Linked DNA regions of Homo sapiens: region 2 is reported to be linked to region 1. The links are microRNA targets in miRTarBase. Many come from high-throughput screens and were not tested one by one. Region 1 holds a microRNA gene; the other region holds the end of a gene's coding sequence. Distances are between the middles of the regions.

Region 1 (8,508 bases):
TAACAATTAGAACTCTGATGGACAACATGCAACATGATAACAGCAATTACTGAGAAGAATCTCTAAGTACCATCAACCAGTAGTATTTAAAACCCAGCAAGCCTCTCAAATCTGAATAACTTGCTGACGAAGTAAAGTGCCTCAAACATTTAAACGTTTGAGTTCAGGCCGGGCGCAGTGGCTCATGTCTGTAATCCCAAGGCTGAGATGGGCAGATCACTTGAGGTCAGGAATTCGAGACCAGCCTGGCCAACATGGTGAAACTCTGTCTTTACAAAAATACAAAAATTAGCCAGGTGTGGTGGTGAGCACCTGTAATCCCAGCTACTCGGGAGTGCGAGGCAGGAGAATCGCTTAAACCCAGGAGGTGGAAGCTGCAGTGAGCCGAGATCGCACCACTGCACTCCAGCCTGGGCGACAGAGCGAGACTCCGTCTCAAAAAAATAAAATAAATAAATAAATGCTTGTGTTTAGTAGAAGAAAGCTGATTATAAGAATTAACTCTGGCCGGGCGCGGTGGCTCACGCCTGTAATCCCAACACTTTGGGAGGCCAAGGCGGGTGGATTACCTGAGGTCAAGAGTTCAAGACCAACCTGGGCAACACAGTGAAACCCCATCTCTACTAAAAATACAAAATTCGCTGGACATGGTGGTGGGCGCCTGTGATCCCAGCTACTCGGGAGGCTGAGGCAGGAGAATCGCTTGAACCCAGGAGGCAGAGTTGCAGTGAGCCCATATAGCACCATTGCACTCCAGCCTGGGCAAAAAGAGCAAAACTCTGCCTAAAAAAAAAAAGTCACTGAGCTGACCCAATCTTCCTATTATAAAGACATACTAGAAGAAAACATAAGCAGGCACAGAAGCATAATCTTAAAAGAAAAAGAGTAAAAGACAAAAATAATACAAGCAAACCACACTTGCGACCTAGTGGCAGGACTGATTTCTTAGGGATGAATTCAATCTTTTGAGCCTCCCCGTTCTCAGAGAGGGGACTTCAGCCTCCCACGGCTCTCTAGCAACCCTTCTGGCTGACTGCAGGGAACGCAGGGGACGCGCAAAAGTAAAGGAACGAAAGCAAGGAAAGAGAGTCTCTTCCCGAGGAAAAAGACGGAATCTTGAAATGAGAGAAAACGAACAGCACGAAAGGGAAGAAACCTCGAAAAATTACGCCAGAGTGGGGACTACAAGGAGGAAGGGGAAGTACATTAGAAAAAAAGGGGGGGGTGGGGGGAGGAAGGGGCAAATGACTTGCATTACACAAGCATTTCGTGTCCCTAGTGGAAAGGACAGAAGCAGATAGAGAAGGAAGGAAATAACTGGAGAAAGAGGAGTAAGAAAGCCAAAATAGACTAATGCTAATTTCTCTCATGTGTCTGACATTTCGGAAAGTCAACAGCATCAAAAAGAGACAGACCTCAAGTGCACTTCAGTCCCCTGCAAACTGCACTTTCACAGCGTTTGAAGCCAGCCTTGAAAAACTTTCTAAACAAGCCATAACTCATGTGTGGCTTACAATCATAGAGAGGGCGCGCTGCAAATGAAAATTACCAGCGCCCGCTCTCGCCGCAATCCTTCCTCGGTGCAGTCCAACCTGCTACTGCTGAATTTTTCTTGACAAATATTTTTCAAATAGTTTTTTTTTTTAAGTGTCAGAATAAAGGTATCTCCCCCGGCTCCAGCAGCAAACGTTCCACCCCAAAGTGGATTCCCGCACAAAATTAAGCCCAAAGACGCCAGGAGATGGTGACGTGGTTGCCGTGCAGGTCGAAGGCACATCAATCACCACAGCTGCAGCCCACACCAGTCCCCCGCCGCCAGGCTCGGGTAGACTGACTCGGTCGGCGTTCGGCCCGCCTGGGCTTCCCGGGCCCCTTCCGTGCAAACCCTCCCGATGAAGGCAGGGGACCTCGCCAGAGAACCCCGACCTCTTCCCCCGGACTGCCCAGAGCCAAGAGCCGGAGGAGGACGGTCCCCAGGAAGGAAGCGCCCCAAAAGGGGAAACGTAGAGTCCGGAGCCCCGGGGATTGCGCTCCACGTCCCAAGCCTCGCCGCCCCGACGCGAACCCCGGGGCCGGTCCCGGTTCCCCCGGGGCCCACTCCCGCTGTAGAGCCAAGAGGAAAAGGCACGAGAGAGGCGCCGAGCGCAGCCTCCCGTACTCACCGTGGCGCAGCTGCTCCGCTCAGCGTCCGGCCCGCCCCTCCACAACGCTGCGAGCGGCCGGCGACCCCAAGGCTGCTCTGCGAGGGCAGCGCTTGCTCCCGCCGCCGTCACCGCCACAGGCACAGACTCTGCCACAGCCGCCGCCGCCGCTGCCGCCGCCCGGTCGCCGAAGCAGCAATACCTCCTGGCTTCCGCTCCCCGTCGGTGTCCCGCGAGAACTTCTCCACGAGGCCCCGCCCCGCCCCCGCGAGACTTCCCCCGGCGGAAAAGGCCCAGAGCGCAAGCGCTCCTCCTCAGCCGGGCCCCTGCGGGTAGGGAACCAGCTAGGTGTCAGGGCGCATGCGCCAGACCTCCCCGCAGCAGGTGGCCTCCGCACGGCTCCGCCCCCGGGTCGCCGTAACCCTCTCGGTGCCAGAGCGGGTAAATGACAGCTTAGCCCTGAAGGACTCTTCCCCCGTCTAATCACTTTATTTTCCTCTTCTACCAAACCTAGGCAGTTGGATGGGTAGGGGCTTGGGGGAGGAAGAGATCTTCCAGAATGAAGCACTCCAAATAGAGGACCAGGTCTTAAAATATTTGAGAATCCGGTCCGTACAAACTCTGCTGTGTTGAATGATTGGTGAGTTTGTTTGCTCATTGATTGAATCACTGCAGAGTTTGTACGGACCGGATTCTCCAATATAGGCCGAACACTGTGCTGGGGATAGAACAGAAATCTTGGCCCTTAAGGAATTCACGGTCTAGGAAGTAGAAGAAAAATAAACAAATAATGCCATAAGTACTGTTATAATTATTTGGAGTTTGCTGAGGAAGCTAAAAAAATGGAGGGGGTACTGCTACACTGCCCATTGCAGAAGAGCCTTCACAGATGTGATGCGGCGATGTCTGATCTGAGTCTTGGAGGATGAGTAGGAATTTGCCAGGCAGAGAAGCCAGAGTAAGGGCATTTCAGGGAAAGGGAATGGCACGTAAGTACAGAGGCTAAGTACAGAGGAACGGAGGCGTGAGAGAGAAAGTCGTGTTCTGTGCAGTGCTAAGTAGTTCAATTCCTGTATGAGGCCGGTGAGTACGGGGGAGTGGCAGAAGATGAGGCTTGGAGAAATAATTCTTATTTTTCAGTTCCCAAAGCTCTTCCAATTAAAGGATAGAACACAACACACCTAGCGTTACTGTGCCTTCTGGAAGCCAACAAAATAGCGCTGAGGTGAGAATAACCAAGCATCTGATTCTATAGAGAAAAGAAGCCCATTGAAACACAGAAAATGAATTGTGCTTTCACCAAGTATTTATTGAGCATCACCTGTGTGCAAGGGGCTCTGCAGGGTCAAAGACCAACCAGATGAAGCCCCTGCTTTCAGTGCTTTGTAATCTAGAGTTGCCTAATCTGTAAGACAAGCAGTTGGCCCCAAGTGCCACTGAACTACACATAGGGATGGCTGAGGAGGGAGCCAGTACTTGGTGCTGAGCTAATCAAGAAGGATTTGGTTTGAACGGCAAAGTGAAAGCAGGGAGGAAAGAGGAAAGAGTAATGGAATCAGCCTTTTGTTTTTTTTTTTTTTTTTTTTTTTTGAGACGGAGTTTTGCTCTTGTTGCCCAGGCTGGAGTGCAATGGTGCGCGATCTTGGCTCACCGCAAGCTCCGCCTCCCGGGTTCAAGGGATTCTCCTGCCTCAGCCTCCCGAGTAGCTGGGATTACAGGCATGTGCCACCACACCCAGCTAATTTTGTATTTCTAGTAGAGATGGGGTTTCTCCATGTTGGTCAGGCTGGTCTCAAACTCCTGACCTCAGGTGATCCGCCCACCTTGGCCTCCCAAAGTGCTGGGATTACAGGCGTGAGCCACCATGCCTGTTTTTTTGGTTTTTTTTTTTTTTTTGAGACTTGCACTGTTGCCCAGGCTGGAGTGGAGTGCAGTGGCATGATTTTGGCTCACTGCAACTTCCGCCTCCTGGGTTCAAGCATTCTCTCACCTCAGCCTCTCAAGTAGCTGAGATTACAGCAGCCTGCCACCACACCCAGCTAATTTTTGTATTTTTAATAGAGACAGGGTTTCGCCATGTTGGCCAGGCTGGTCTCGAACTCCTGACCTCAGGTGATCCACCTGCCTCAGCCTCTCAAAGTGCTGGGATTACAGATGTGAGCCAACACTCCTGGCCATCAACCAATGTTTTTGATTAGTCCAAGCCCCAGTAATTGGGGGGAAGAGTGATGAGAGAGAGGGGCCAAAATGCAAAATGCATGGCTTAGGTGTCATAGTCAAGTGATGGGCAACCTCTGAAGGTTTCTGAGCAGGAGGTGTCTGATATGAGGTGAAAATAAGAAAAGGACCCTCTATTTACCACTTGATGCATACTTAAGTCATAGCGCCTCCACAGGGTGGGTAATATCCCCATTTTACAGACTTGGAAACTAAGCCTTAGAGAGGTTAGTAATTTACCCAAGGAAGCCAAAATATAGTAGACCTAAGATTTGGACTAAGGCCTGTCTTGTTCTAAAATCCTCATTTTTTTCCCGCACTATGCCACTTTGTTCTAAAATAGCAGTCAGAAAAAAATAGAAATGGAAGGGAGGGACTTAGCTGCTAAGCAGAGAGGAAGACATGAGGGAAGAATTGCAGTTTTTTGTTTTGAGTGGGCCTGGATAACAGGGAGAACACAGAAATTTGCCAGTCAAGAGGCATAGCTGACTGGAGGGGGCAGGCACAGAGAACAGGGAAGGGCAGGTGAGGAGATGATTGTAAGGGTGAAGGGAATTTTTCCCTTCCACTCTGACAGTTTGAGTCTGCTGAAATAAACTGGCAATAGATTAACAGGAGAAAGCACATACAAATTTACTGACATGCAGTGTGCATGGTTACCATACAGAATATGAGACTCAGAGAAGAGCCAGGTGGCTGAAGCTTAAAGAGCACCATCTTTGCAGAGGAGAGGGAGATGAGCGGAGGTCAGCAATACTGAAAGGTAGTCAACTATTTTTAGGGAAAAGGAATGAGCCCAAACAATGCCTGGGACAAAGTTCCTCTGAGCTCTGGGAGCTGGAGGTTGTGACAAATTTCAGGAAGGTGAGGTGCAGGACTTCACTGTAAATAAAGGTTGTCTTATTATGCAGATAAAGTCTCCTAAATAATCTCAGCTGTCCTCAGGAGAATAGATGAAAAGTCTGTTTGGATGTGGTGACAACTTTTAGTCTTTTCTCTTCTCTGGTAGTTAATATTTCCTGGTTATTTGACGAGAGTCCTAGGGAGGAAATTTTAAGACAGTCGCATCTATTTTTTTTCTTTTCTTTTCTTTTTTTTTTTTTTGAGATGTAGTTTCACTCTTGTTGTCCAGGCTGGAGTGCAATGGCGTGATCTCAGCTCACCGAAACCTCCACCTCCCAGGTTCAAGTGATGCTCCTGCCTCAGCCTCCAGAGTAGCTGGCATTACAGGCATGCACCACCACGCCCGGCTAATTTTGTATGTTTAGCAGAGATGGGGCTTTTCCCTGTTGGTCAGGCTGGTCTCGAACTCCCGACCTCAGGTGATCCGCCCGCCTTGGCCTCCCAAAGTGCTGGGATCACAGGCGTGAGCCACCACACCTGCTCTTTTTCTTTCTTTCTTTTTTAATGGATCCCTTCACAGATTTGCATGTCTTCTTGCTCAGGGGCTATGCTAATCTCTGTATCATTCCAATTTTAGTATATGTGCTGCCAAAGCAAGTACACAATTGAATTTCTTTTGGTTTCTCAGTCAGCTAAGGGAACTTTCAGACAGCCCCTGCATGCATGTGGGGTGGTGAAACAAGACTTTAAAAAGTCCTTGGTTCTGAGGCAGCTTGTAAGTCCTTCCAATTTCCTTTCATTCAAAAGTGCTCAGAATGCCAGAGGAGCATACTTTGGGGTATCATTCTCTGAGCCCCAACATGATGATGACTCATTTTTGGAAATGCAGAATTCAGCATTCCAGGAGACATGCAGGTGGAAATATTCAGTATGCTGTTGAAAAGCTTGACAAGCTGGACGCAGCGTTCTCTCCCATAATCCCAGCACTTTGGGAGGCTGAGGCAGGTGGATCACTTGAAGTCAGGAGTTTGAGACCAGCCTAGCCAACATGGTGAAACCTCATCTCTACTAAAAATGCAAAAATTAGCCGGGCGTGGTGGCACATGCTTGTAACCCCAGCTACTCGGGAGGCTGAGGCAGGAGAATTGCTTGAACCCAGGAGGCGGAGGTTGCAGTAAGCAAAGATCATGCCACTGCACTCCAACCTGGGTGACAGAACCAGACTCCATCTCAAAAAAAAAAATAAATAAATAAATAAAAGAAAAGCTTAATGTACTCATTCATTCTCTTTGCCAACATTAACTAAGCATCTATTCTCTTTGTTTGTTTTTTTTTGTTTTTGAGACAGGGTCTCACTCTTGTCACCCAGGCTGGAGTGCAGTGGCGCAACCTCAGCTCACTGCAGCCTTGACTTCCCAGGCTCAGGTAATTCTCCCATCTGAGTCTCCCAAGTAGCCAGAACTACAGGCACATGCCGCCATGCCCAGCTAATTTTTTGTGTTATGTAAGTATGTATGTATGTACGTATGTATGTATGTATGTATGTATTGAGACAGGGTCTCACTCTGTTGCCCAGGCTGGAGTGCAGTGGCACGATCAGGGCTCACTGCAGCCTCAACCTCCTGGGCAAGAGATCCTCCTGCCTCAGCCCCCCAGTACCTGGGACAACAGTCATGCACCACCACGCTTGGCTAAATTTTTGTGTTTTTAGTAGAGATGGGTATCATCATGTTGGTTAGGTTGGTCTCAAACTCCTGGGCTCAGGCAATCTGCCCGCCTTGGCCTCCCAAAGTGCTAAGATTACAAGCGTGAGCCACCACGCCCAGCCTAGAGCATCTACTCTCTAGAGAGGAGGACAACCCTCCACAGAGTCTGCAGCCTGAAGGGGAAGACATGTCTCTGAGAATTTGACCAGGATAGTGCTGGTGGCTTTGGAAGCATACAGCAGGGGACCTGACCTCATCCACTATGAGGGAAGGCAGAGGAAGTGGGCTTTAAGCTGAGACCCTGGTTAGCCTGAGAGGAAGAAATGATACAGCAAGTGTGAAGGCCAGACAGTAAGCAAGGATGTAAGGAAGCCAATAGCTGGGACAAGGAAGGATGTGTGGCATGTGGGTAAAGCAGCTGAAGAGGCTCGTGAAGGGCCTTTGCTTTTCTCTCTCTCTCTCTCTCTCTTTTTTTGAGATAGGGTCTTGCTGTATTGCCCAGGCTGAAGTACAGTGGTGTGATCACAACTCACTGCAGCCTCAACCTCCTGAACTCAAACAATCCTCCTGCCACATAGCTGGGATCATAGGCATGCGCCATCACCATGCCTGACTAATTTTTTTTTTTTTTTTTTTGAGACAGAGTCTTGCTCTGTCACCCAGGCTGGAGTGAAGTGGCACCATCTTGGCTCACTGCAACCTCTGCCTCCCAGGTTGAAGCAATTCTCCTGCCTCAGCCTCCCCAATAGCTGGGACTACAGGCACGCACCACCACGCCTGGGTAATTTTCGTATTTTTAGTAGAGATGGGGGTATCACCATGTTGGCCAGGCTGCTCTCGAACTCCTGACCTCAGATGATCCACACACCTCGGCCTCCCAAAGTGCTGGGATTACAGGCATAGGCCACTGCACCCAGACTAATTTTTTTATTTTTTGTAGAGAAGAGGAGTCTGACTTTGTTGCTAGCCTGGTCTTGAACTCTTGATCCTCCCACCTCAGCATCCTAAAGTGCTGGGGTTACAGGCATGAGCCACTGCACCCACTTTTTCATTATTGCTAAAGACTTGAGACTTGACTCTGTGGAATACTGAAGTAGGAGTGGGCCATGGTCAAATTTTTATCTTCCAAATATTTTGTCACTCTGGCTGCAGAGTAGAAAACCAATTGGAACTAAGACATTCATCATCTACTGTCTCAAGTCCCTTACAAGGCTCTTAAAGATCTGGCCCTTCCAGCCAGTGCCACCTTCTCAGTCTCCAGTAACACATACTCCACCAATACTAACCCACTTGTGGTTTCCGGAAGGTGTCATGATCCTTTGAGTGTCCATATCTTTACACATGCAATTTCCTCTGTTCAGTTGGCTTTCTACCCTTCCACTAGGTCCCCAAGTCAGTTTTCTTCTTCAAAATTTCCATGGTAGGTCAGGCACAGTGGCTCACATCTCACTTTAGGAGGTGGAGGTGGGTGGATCAGTTGAGTCCAGGAGTTCAAGACCAACCTGGGCAACATGGTAAAACCCCACCTCTACTAAAAATGCAAAAATTAGCTGGGCAGGGTGGCAAACACCTCTAGTTGGGAGCTACTCAGGAGGCTGAGG
Region 2 (8,469 bases), 74 Mb from region 1:
GCTGGGCCTCCCGAATTGCTGGGATTATAGATGTGAACCACAAGACCCCATGTTTCATCGTCTCTTTGCGGCTATCTCCTTTCCCCTGTGTCTGCTGTGTTCTATCACAGTCTATTTCTCTCTCTCACTCCTTCGTCTTTTTGTTTTGTTTTGTTTTTTCTTTTTTTTTTTTTGAGATGGAGTTTCACTCTTGTTGCCCGGGCTGGAGTGCAATGGTGCCATCTCAGCCCACTGCAAACTCTGCCTTCCAGGTTCAAGCAATTCTCTTGCCTCAGCCTCCCGAGTAACTGGGATTACAGGTGCCCGCCACCACGCCCGGATAATTTTTTGCCCTTTTAGTAAAGATGGGGTTTCACCATGTTGGCCAGGCTGGTCTCCAACTCCTAGGCTCCAGCGATCCACCTGCCTCAGCCTCCCAAAGTGCCAGGATTACAGGCATGAGCCACGGCACCCGGCCACTCTTTCATCATTGTGTCTGTGGATCTCACGGTTCCAGTTCTCAGCATGGTTTCCCCTGGGTGGTTGACCCTTGGTACTGCGTCGGTTATAGCCAGCCCTGTAACCCATCTCTGGGTGTCCTGGGGAGACTGTATTTCACTGTTTCCATCTTCCGCTCTGCTCTTCTCCCAGCCTCTTAGTCTATTTTAGCTTCTTTTCTGTGGTATTTCTGTCTCTCTCTCTTTTTAAACTTCGTCCCCCAAATATTTATTGAGCAGCTATTCCATGCCAGGCACGATTCTAGGCACTGGGGGTAGAGTGGGGACCAAGGCAGAGCATGCGCCAGCCTTCAAAGAATGTTTTTTTCTTTCTTTTCTTTTTTTTTTTTTGAGACGGAGTCTCGCTCTGTTGCCCAGGCTGGAGCGCAGTGGTATAATCTCCGCTCACTGCAAGCTCCGCCTCCCGGGTTCACGCCATTCTCCTGCCTCAGCCTCCCGAGTAGCTGGGAGTACAGGCACCCGTCACCACGCCCGGCTACTTTTTTGTATTTTTAGTAGAGACGGGGTTTCACCGTGTTAGCCAGGATTGTCTTGATCTCCTGAGCTCGTGATCTGCCCGCCTCGGCCTTCCAAAGTGCTGGGATTACAGGCGTGAGCCACCGCACCTGGACATTTTTTGTAGTTTTAGTAGAGACAGGGTTTCACCATGTTAGCCAGGATGGTCTCGATCTCCTGACCTCGTGATCTGCCCGCCTCGGCCTCCCAAAGTGCTGGAAATGCTCGCCACCACGCCTGGCTACTTTTTGTATTTTTAGAAGAGACAGGGTTTCACCATGTTGGTCAGGCTAGTCTCGAACTCCTGACTTCAGGTGATCCGAGGGGGCTTCCTTTATAAGCAGAATTCACCAGCAGCCTTGGTCTTCCCACCCAAAAGGCCTGTTGCTCTGCCCTCCCACACTCCTTCAAATGGCAATGCAGATCAACCAGCAAATGCAGCCTGGCAGGGGTGGGGGTCAGGAACGCATCCCAGTCAAGGGACAGGGAACCTGGGCACCAGACAAGAGGCGAGAAATGTGTGATCTAGGGAGAAAGAGACACAGGAGCCAAGGAGGAAGCCGCTCGCAGTCATTCTCAGCATACATTTATTGAGTGCTCACTGTGTGCCAGGAAGTAAGCCAGGTGCTAGAAACGGCAAAGGAGCAGGGAAGAGGCGGGTCAGCCGCTGGGTTGACCCTGGTTAATACAGGGTACGGATTAACCCTTCAGGCTCCCTTCCGAGGGCCTGGGCGGGGTCTTGGGGCCGCTCCTGCCCAGGTGTTCTTTCCAGCAATGGAAAGGGATTCAGCGAGGTAAGACGCTTCCCCTCTCCTCCATTCAGAGAGCGGCACACAAGAAATCTACACAGTCTTCCCAACATGTACACACCCTGACATGCCCGGATGCATCTCACACTTAGATAAACACACACGCACACAGTCAGAGGCACGGTCCCGCAGCTGTATGAGGATGCGGTGTACAGGTGCTGCCTACGTGACCGTGCCTTGAGTCGCCCCACTCAGCAGAAACCTCACTCAGCAGAAACTTGTCCACCAGTGATTGATTATCTCGAGCAGCTATTTGGCCAAGTCTTACCAAAACGTGAAAGCCACAAAAGAAAAGTGAACGAGAGAAGAGTTTCTTAAGGCTTTGCTCGGAGAGGGCTTCGGAGAAGGGTGGGGTCAGCAGATACAGACCTTACTTTTTTTTTTTTTTTTTTTTTTTTTGAGACGGAGTCTTGCTCTGTCGCCCAGGCTGGAGTGCAGTGGCACAATCTCGGCTCACTGCAAGCTTCACCTCCCGGGTTCATGCCATTCTCCTGCCTCAGCCTCCCAAGTAGCTGGGACTACAGGTACCCACCACCACGCCCAGCTAATTTTTTTTTTTCGTATTTTTAGTAGAGATGGGGTTTCACTGTGTTAGCCACGTTGGTCTCGATCTCCTGACCTTGTGATCCGCCCGCCTCAGCCTCCCAAAGTGCTGGGATTACAGGCGTGAGCCACTGCGCCCGGCCCTAATTTTTGTATTTTTAGTAGAGTTGAGGTTTCACCATGTTGGTCAGGCTGGTCTCAAACCCCTGACCTCAAGTGATCCACCCCGCCCCCGCTTCGGCCTCCCAAAGCACTGGGATTACAGGGATGAGCCACCTCGCTGGGACCAGACCTTACTTTCTTGACTTGGCCACAAGTCTGTCCTGCTCAGAGCTGCTGAAAGTGGCTCTCCTGTTGTATGGGCTTGGGTGTGGTGTGGTGGCCCTTTCCCTGTCCCAGCTGCCTTCTTCCTGGGCACTGAAAACGATGCTACCATTGTTTTTTTTTTTTTTTTTGAGACGGAGTCTCGCTCTGTCGCCCAGGCTGGAGTGCAGTGGCGGGATCTCGGCTCACTGCAAGCTCCGCCTCCCGGGTTCACACCATTCTCCTGCCTCAGCCTCCCAAGTAGCTGGGACTACAGGCGCCCGCCACTACGCCCGGCTAATTTTTTGTATTTTTAGTAGAGACGGGGTTTCACCGTTTTAGCCGGGATGGTCTTGATCTCCTGACCTCGTGATCCGCCCGCCTCGGCCTCCCAAAGTGCTGGGATTACAGGCGTGAGCCACCGCGCCCGGCCAAATGCTACCATTGTTAAGTGCCAGGCGTCCCACCATGCGGGTCTTCACTGCGTATCCACGTAGCTGCACCACGCAGGCATTCTTTCCTCCCTTTTGCAGATGATGGCACCAAAGTTCAAGACTCGCCCAGGGCCACCAAGACAGTCCTCTAGACTTTGGTCTTCCCTCCTTGCCTCCTCGGCCTGGGGTGGTGGCGCCTCGGTCTGAGAAGGGTCGAGGTCTGGGTGCTGCTAGTGGCCCTGGCTCAGTCTCAGAGCTGCCCGGAGGGGGTGAGGATGGCTAACTTAAGGAGCACAGGCAGAGGCTTCCTGCTGGCAGGAAGAGGGCTGAGCTGCGGAAGGCCACCCAGGTGGAGTGTGCTGCACCTCCTTCAGTGGCCTTCAGGAGCTCTGTCCTCACCCAGGGATTGGGGTGAGTCAGGGCATGGGGAAACAGGCTCACAGAGCCCACCTGCTCACCCTGACCACCCCACCCCAGGGGACCCCAGGCTCCTAACTCTCAGAATCCCACAGTCTGTATTGGCGGAAGACGGGCTGGCACCCTTGAGTTAGGCCCCCAGTCGTTGGCACAGATAAGGGGAGCTGCTGCTGAAGGAGCCCGACGGCTGATTCTGTGGAGGCTTCTCAGAGCTCCTGGCAGGAGCCCCTCACCGCAGGAGGCCCACAACCCCTCCCAGCTGCATATCGGCTCACATTCACGCGGCTGCCACACAAGTGCGTCGGAAACTCCACTTGGCTGAACGTGATTGTGCTGCTGTCTGGGACAGTCTTATGCACGTGAGCCCAATACTGGATGTCCCGCCATTTTCAGCCCTGGGGCCTATGGCAAAGTGACGCCCCCCTCGGAGTGCACGGCAGGCAAGGAAGGTTTAAACGGAAGTTCTGACCAGGACGATGCTGGGTGCAAGAGGGGACGGGGATGGAGCAAAACAGAAAGGATCCACCAGGGCCTGCAACCACGTCTTTGGCCCCGGTGAGGGGTGGGACCTTGTGTATAGGTCCAGGCAGCAGCAGCTGCAGACAGAGGCCTAGAGGGTTTGGAGAAGGCCGACCACAAAGACACGCCTAGACCCCAGAGTCTAGTGAGGAGAGGGACTGGGGGCAGTGTTTCGGCAGCAGACCCAGACCCAGACTCAGACCCAAGCCCCCCTCCTCACTGATCAAAACCCCAAGGGCAGGGAGCCCTTCCTGCTCCTTCCCGCCAGAGCCTGGAGGATGAGGGGCAGACGGGAGGCCCGGCCACTGGTGCCTGCTCCTTTGATCAGCTGTAGTCCCTTCCCCTTCACAGGGCACTTGTCTTGCTGGTTGGGGTCACCAGGGATTGCTCCCCCAAGTACCCATCAGCCTCCAGGGCCCAAATGATTCCATGCAGTAGCTCTCTCCCCCTCTTCTGAGAAGGCTCTTGGCTCCCAGAAACGGAAACCATGCCTGGGCCTGCTCCCCTTCCTTGGGCTGTGACCCCCCTGCCACAGAGGCCCCCCCCCCGCCACAGAGGTCCCCCCTGCCACAGAGGTCCCCCTGCCACAGAGGCCTGGTGGCCCCTGAGCTGCTGCTCCGAGTGGAATGTCCTGGTCTAGAGGCCCTTGGCTGCTCCAGTGTCTTAAGACCCATATATGAGTGCTGGCTCTGACCTTGAACAAGCTCCTCCATCGCTCCAGGCCTCGTTTTTCAGGTGTATATGATGATAGTATCTCTAGGCCTCGTTTTTCAGTTGTAAAGCAGGGATGATCATATGTGTTTAACTCCCAGATTGTTATCAAGTCAAGGACAACAATAGGAAAACATGTCACCTGTCAGCTCCACACAAGGCAAAGTAGGATGGGTGACCCCTGACTAGGGGGTGGGAGTGCAGGGGGCACCCGACCCATCTGGCCAGCCACAGCCTCTGTACCCTGCTCGCATTTTCAGGCCTCAATCCCCAAGCACTGTTGGCCCTGGACTGTTTCCCCCCCTCAATTCTGTTTCTCAATGCCTGCTTCTTCCCAGTAAGTGCCACACCCTGAGGGTGGGTGGGAGAGTGAGGCAGCACTGCCCACTTTGGCTGGGACTGGGCACTGCTGGGGACAGCACGGGCCACGTCTTCCCCATCTCAAGACTGGCTTTTTGGCTAGGCATTGTGACTCACGCCTGTAATCTCAGCACTTTGGGAGGCTGAGGTGGGAGAATTGCTTCAGCCCAGGAGTTCCAGACCAGCCTGGGCAAAATAGCAAGAATTCATCTTTATGAAAAAGAAAAAAAAAATTAGCCAGGCATGGTGGCACACACTTATAGTCCCAGATACTTAGGAGGCCGAGGTGGGAGGATCCCTTGAGCCCATGAGTTGGAGGCCGTGGTGAGCTATCAGTTGCACCACTGCACTCCAGCCTGGATGGCAGAGCAAGACCCCAACTCAAAAAAAAAAAAAAAAAAAAAAAGGCGGCCTTTTCCCAGCTGGCAGCACCCTGGCTAGTTAGGGTTTCTCCGAATCTGCAACTCCTGTGTGATGGCGGGTCTCAAATGCTGGCAGCAGAGTCACCGGTCAGCGGCAAGACCTGGAGTCTCCATTTGGAACCAGCACCCGGGAGCCTCTGCTGGGGGTGATCATGGAGCCGCACGTGGAGGCTGGTGGCTCTGATGGTTCGAGCCGTTCCTCGGCAGCACAGCACACCCGCTCCTGAGGAGCCACGGAGCTCATGAGCGTTGGCAAAGTGCTGTCAGTGCTGGCTGTAAGGAAACAGGCTTGACTTTTAACTCAGCCTTTCCCAAACTTGACTATAATACTTTCTTGAAAATCAGAATAACCACTAACATCACAAAACGAGTGTTCTCAGGAGTGGGCATGTTTATCTCGTTCTCTTTTTTTTTTTCTTTTTGAGACGGAGCCTCGCTCTGTTGCCCAGGCTGGAGTGCAATGGTGCGATCTCGACTCACGGCAATCTCCGTCTCCCCGGTTCAAGCGATTCTCCTGCCTCAGGCTCCCGAGTAGTTGGGATTACAGGCGCACGCCACCACGCCCGATTAATGTTTATTTTTAGTACAGACGGGGTTTCTCCATGTTGGTCAGGATGGTCTCGAACTCCTGACCTCAGGTGAGCCTCCTGCCTTGGCCTCCCAAAGTGCTGGGATTATAGGCGTGAGCCACCACGCCCAGTCTTTTTTTAAATATTTGAGTGAAATAAAGCCTAGGAGATATGTGTTCCAGGCGCCCAAGCTGTTAATGTGGAGCTTGAATGTGGCCTGGACCTGCCCTTTCCTCTTCTCCTTTCATCCCCCTCCCTGCCGCCCACATCCTGAACTGCTCTGAGCCTGCAGAAGAACCCAGCGGGAATCTTCAGGGTTGTGGAAGGGTGTAGGGATGGAAAGGGACCAGGATTCGCCTGTTTGGCTGGGAAAATCGGTAGAGGAGGGTGGCTCACACTTCTAAGATGTCTGCACAAGCCCAGTTTGTTTGGGGGTTGGGGAGGAAGGTCTTTTCCTGGCCCACTGTCCCTCCCGAGTCAGCAGTCCCCCAGAGAGACGAAGAGCAGCTGGGCACGGCTGGAGCTGGTCGGTGGCAGAGAATCTTGTCCTGCCTTTTCTTCTCAAGCTCAAAATAGGCACATGCAGCTATTAACTGATATGCCAGAAGGGGCATCCCTTACCCGGAGGAAAATGGATTTATTGCTTTATAAAAAAGAAGTCTAATAAAACTGAAGAGAAAATAACTAAAAATCCAAACACAACTCACCCCTCTAAGCACGCCCAGGAGGTCTCAAGACACACTTCTGGGGGCAGTCAAGGTGGGCGGGTTGGTGGGCCAGGCGGACGGGCCTCCCCCGTCATCAGCTCCAGGGCCCCACGGAGCCCGCCGGCAGGGGGTGCTGTGGGCCTGTGGCCTTGGACAAGCTCCTGGCCCCACGCCAGGATGGCTCCTGGGCACTGGCCCAGCTGCAGGCCTGGCGGCTCCCGCCTGGTCAGTGGGGATAAGGGCTAACTCCTAGAGCCCACCCCGACCCCACACACACCTCGGACCCACCCACGTCCCCACCCCGGCCTGGACCTCCACGTCTGCCGGCCACAGCCTTTCGTCCACCTCCACAAAAGCAGCTGTGTGTATGTACGGGGTGCCCTGGCGGCGGTCCTCAAATTCCCTTCAGGTGGCAGACAGAACGAGGGTGACAGTGAAAACGTGTCCGCGGCATTGGCCCTCGGGGAGGAGGCGAGGGGTCCACCCAGCCCGCTAAACCCTCTCCAGGGCATAAGCCAGGTGGGGCTTCTCCACCGGCCTCCAACGGGTGGGCAGGCCCTGGACAGGCGACAGGGGGCTGGAATTACAAAGGAATTAGCACCGACAACAGGAAGCGGGTCCTTCCTTCCTCAGGCAGCCTCAGGCTGGCCGGGGAGGGGGTGGGGGCCAGGCGCGGGCGAGACAGTGCAAGCCTTTGTCCTCAGGCAGGTACGGCTGTGGGCATGCAGCCGAGGGGCAGGTGGCAGGCAGGGGATGGCAGCCCCCTCTGCTTTGGCAAGAGGCAGAATCCAGACACTGGCGGGAGAGCGCCTGCCTGCCGGGCGTTCCTGGCTCCTGCTGCAGGCACCACAGAGACCCCAGGCCCCGGGTCCCCGGGGGGCGGCAGAGCAAAGTCAGGGCAGCCCCTGCGTTCGGCAGGAGAAAACGCGCGTGTCCGGGGCCCTCTCCCGTCCTTCCACCACAGAGCTCCGAGGCAGGGCCCCGGGAGGGAGCGTGAACGCTGGCACGGAGACGGCGAAGGTCCTGGGGGTGCGTGGGGTACTCTGGAGGGGCAGGACAGGGGTCAGTCACTGAAGCACAGGCAGGAGACCGCAGTTCCGAGGCGGCAGCCACTACACGAAGGCCTCCTGGTTGGACGAGCCGTTGATTTTGAGGAAGAGTTTGTCATCCTCCTGCCTCTGCTGCAGCTGCCGCTCCAGCTGGCGCCGGTAGCAGATCAGGTAGAGCGGGAGGCAGAAGCCCAGCAGGCTGAGAAGGAGCAGCCCCACGTTCACCTGGGGAGGCAGGGAGGCCGCGCATCACAGGGCGTGGTGGTGCGCCGAGGCTGCAGACCCGCCCTCCACTCGGGTTTGGGAAAGGGGAGAAGGTCACGGGGTGGAAGGGGGAACGAAACAGGAAGGCCCACGAGGTCCCATATGCCAGCGTCCCGGTTCCCAACTCTTCACAGGCCATGTGGCCACCCTCAGGGCCTGGGCCCCCAGGAAACACGGGCTGATCTGAACCTCTGGGCTTGGAACAAGTTCCTGGTACCTGGTGAGGAAATCTGGCCCTCGGAGGTGGGGCGGGGACAGGAACTGTGTTCTTTTTTTTTTTTTTTTTTTTTTTTTGAGACGAAGTCTCGCGCTGTCGTCATTCAGGCTGGAGTGCAGTGGCGCAATCTCAGCTCACTGCAATCTCCGCCTC

The links. The annotated mature microRNA hsa-miR-3678-3p reads CUGCAGAGUUUGUACGGACCGG and lies in region 1 at 2,811-2,832, shown strand. An mRNA with a match to its seed (bases 2 to 7 or 8) in the 3' UTR can be bound and repressed. Matches are read on the target gene's strand: a 7mer-m8 pairs with bases 2 to 8, a 7mer-A1 pairs with bases 2 to 7 and ends in A, and an 8mer does both.
Region 2: the mRNA of SLC43A2 is a reported target of hsa-miR-3678-3p. Seed matches in the 3' UTR shown: 7mer-A1 at 3,175-3,181.

What each region holds. Positions count from the first base shown.
Region 1 is chr17:75,403,327-75,411,834 of GRCh38, forward strand. MIR3678 (microRNA 3678) reads left to right here and starts at 2,743; the gene lies at 2,743-2,836. GRB2 (growth factor receptor bound protein 2) reads right to left here and starts at 2,352. Exons shown (of 6, transcript NM_002086.5): 1 at 2,163-2,352. It also overlaps the pseudogene RNU6-938P. RefSeq lists a silencer at 2,410-2,589.
Region 2 is chr17:1,567,706-1,576,174 of GRCh38, forward strand. It overlaps SLC43A2 (solute carrier family 43 member 2), which reads right to left. Exons shown (of 14, transcript NM_152346.3): 14 at 1,563-8,060. The coding sequence ends at 7,899. Among named protein-coding and RNA genes, the nearest start is that of PITPNA, 9.1 kb to the left of the region's middle. RefSeq lists enhancers at 3,720-4,555, 7,811-8,469.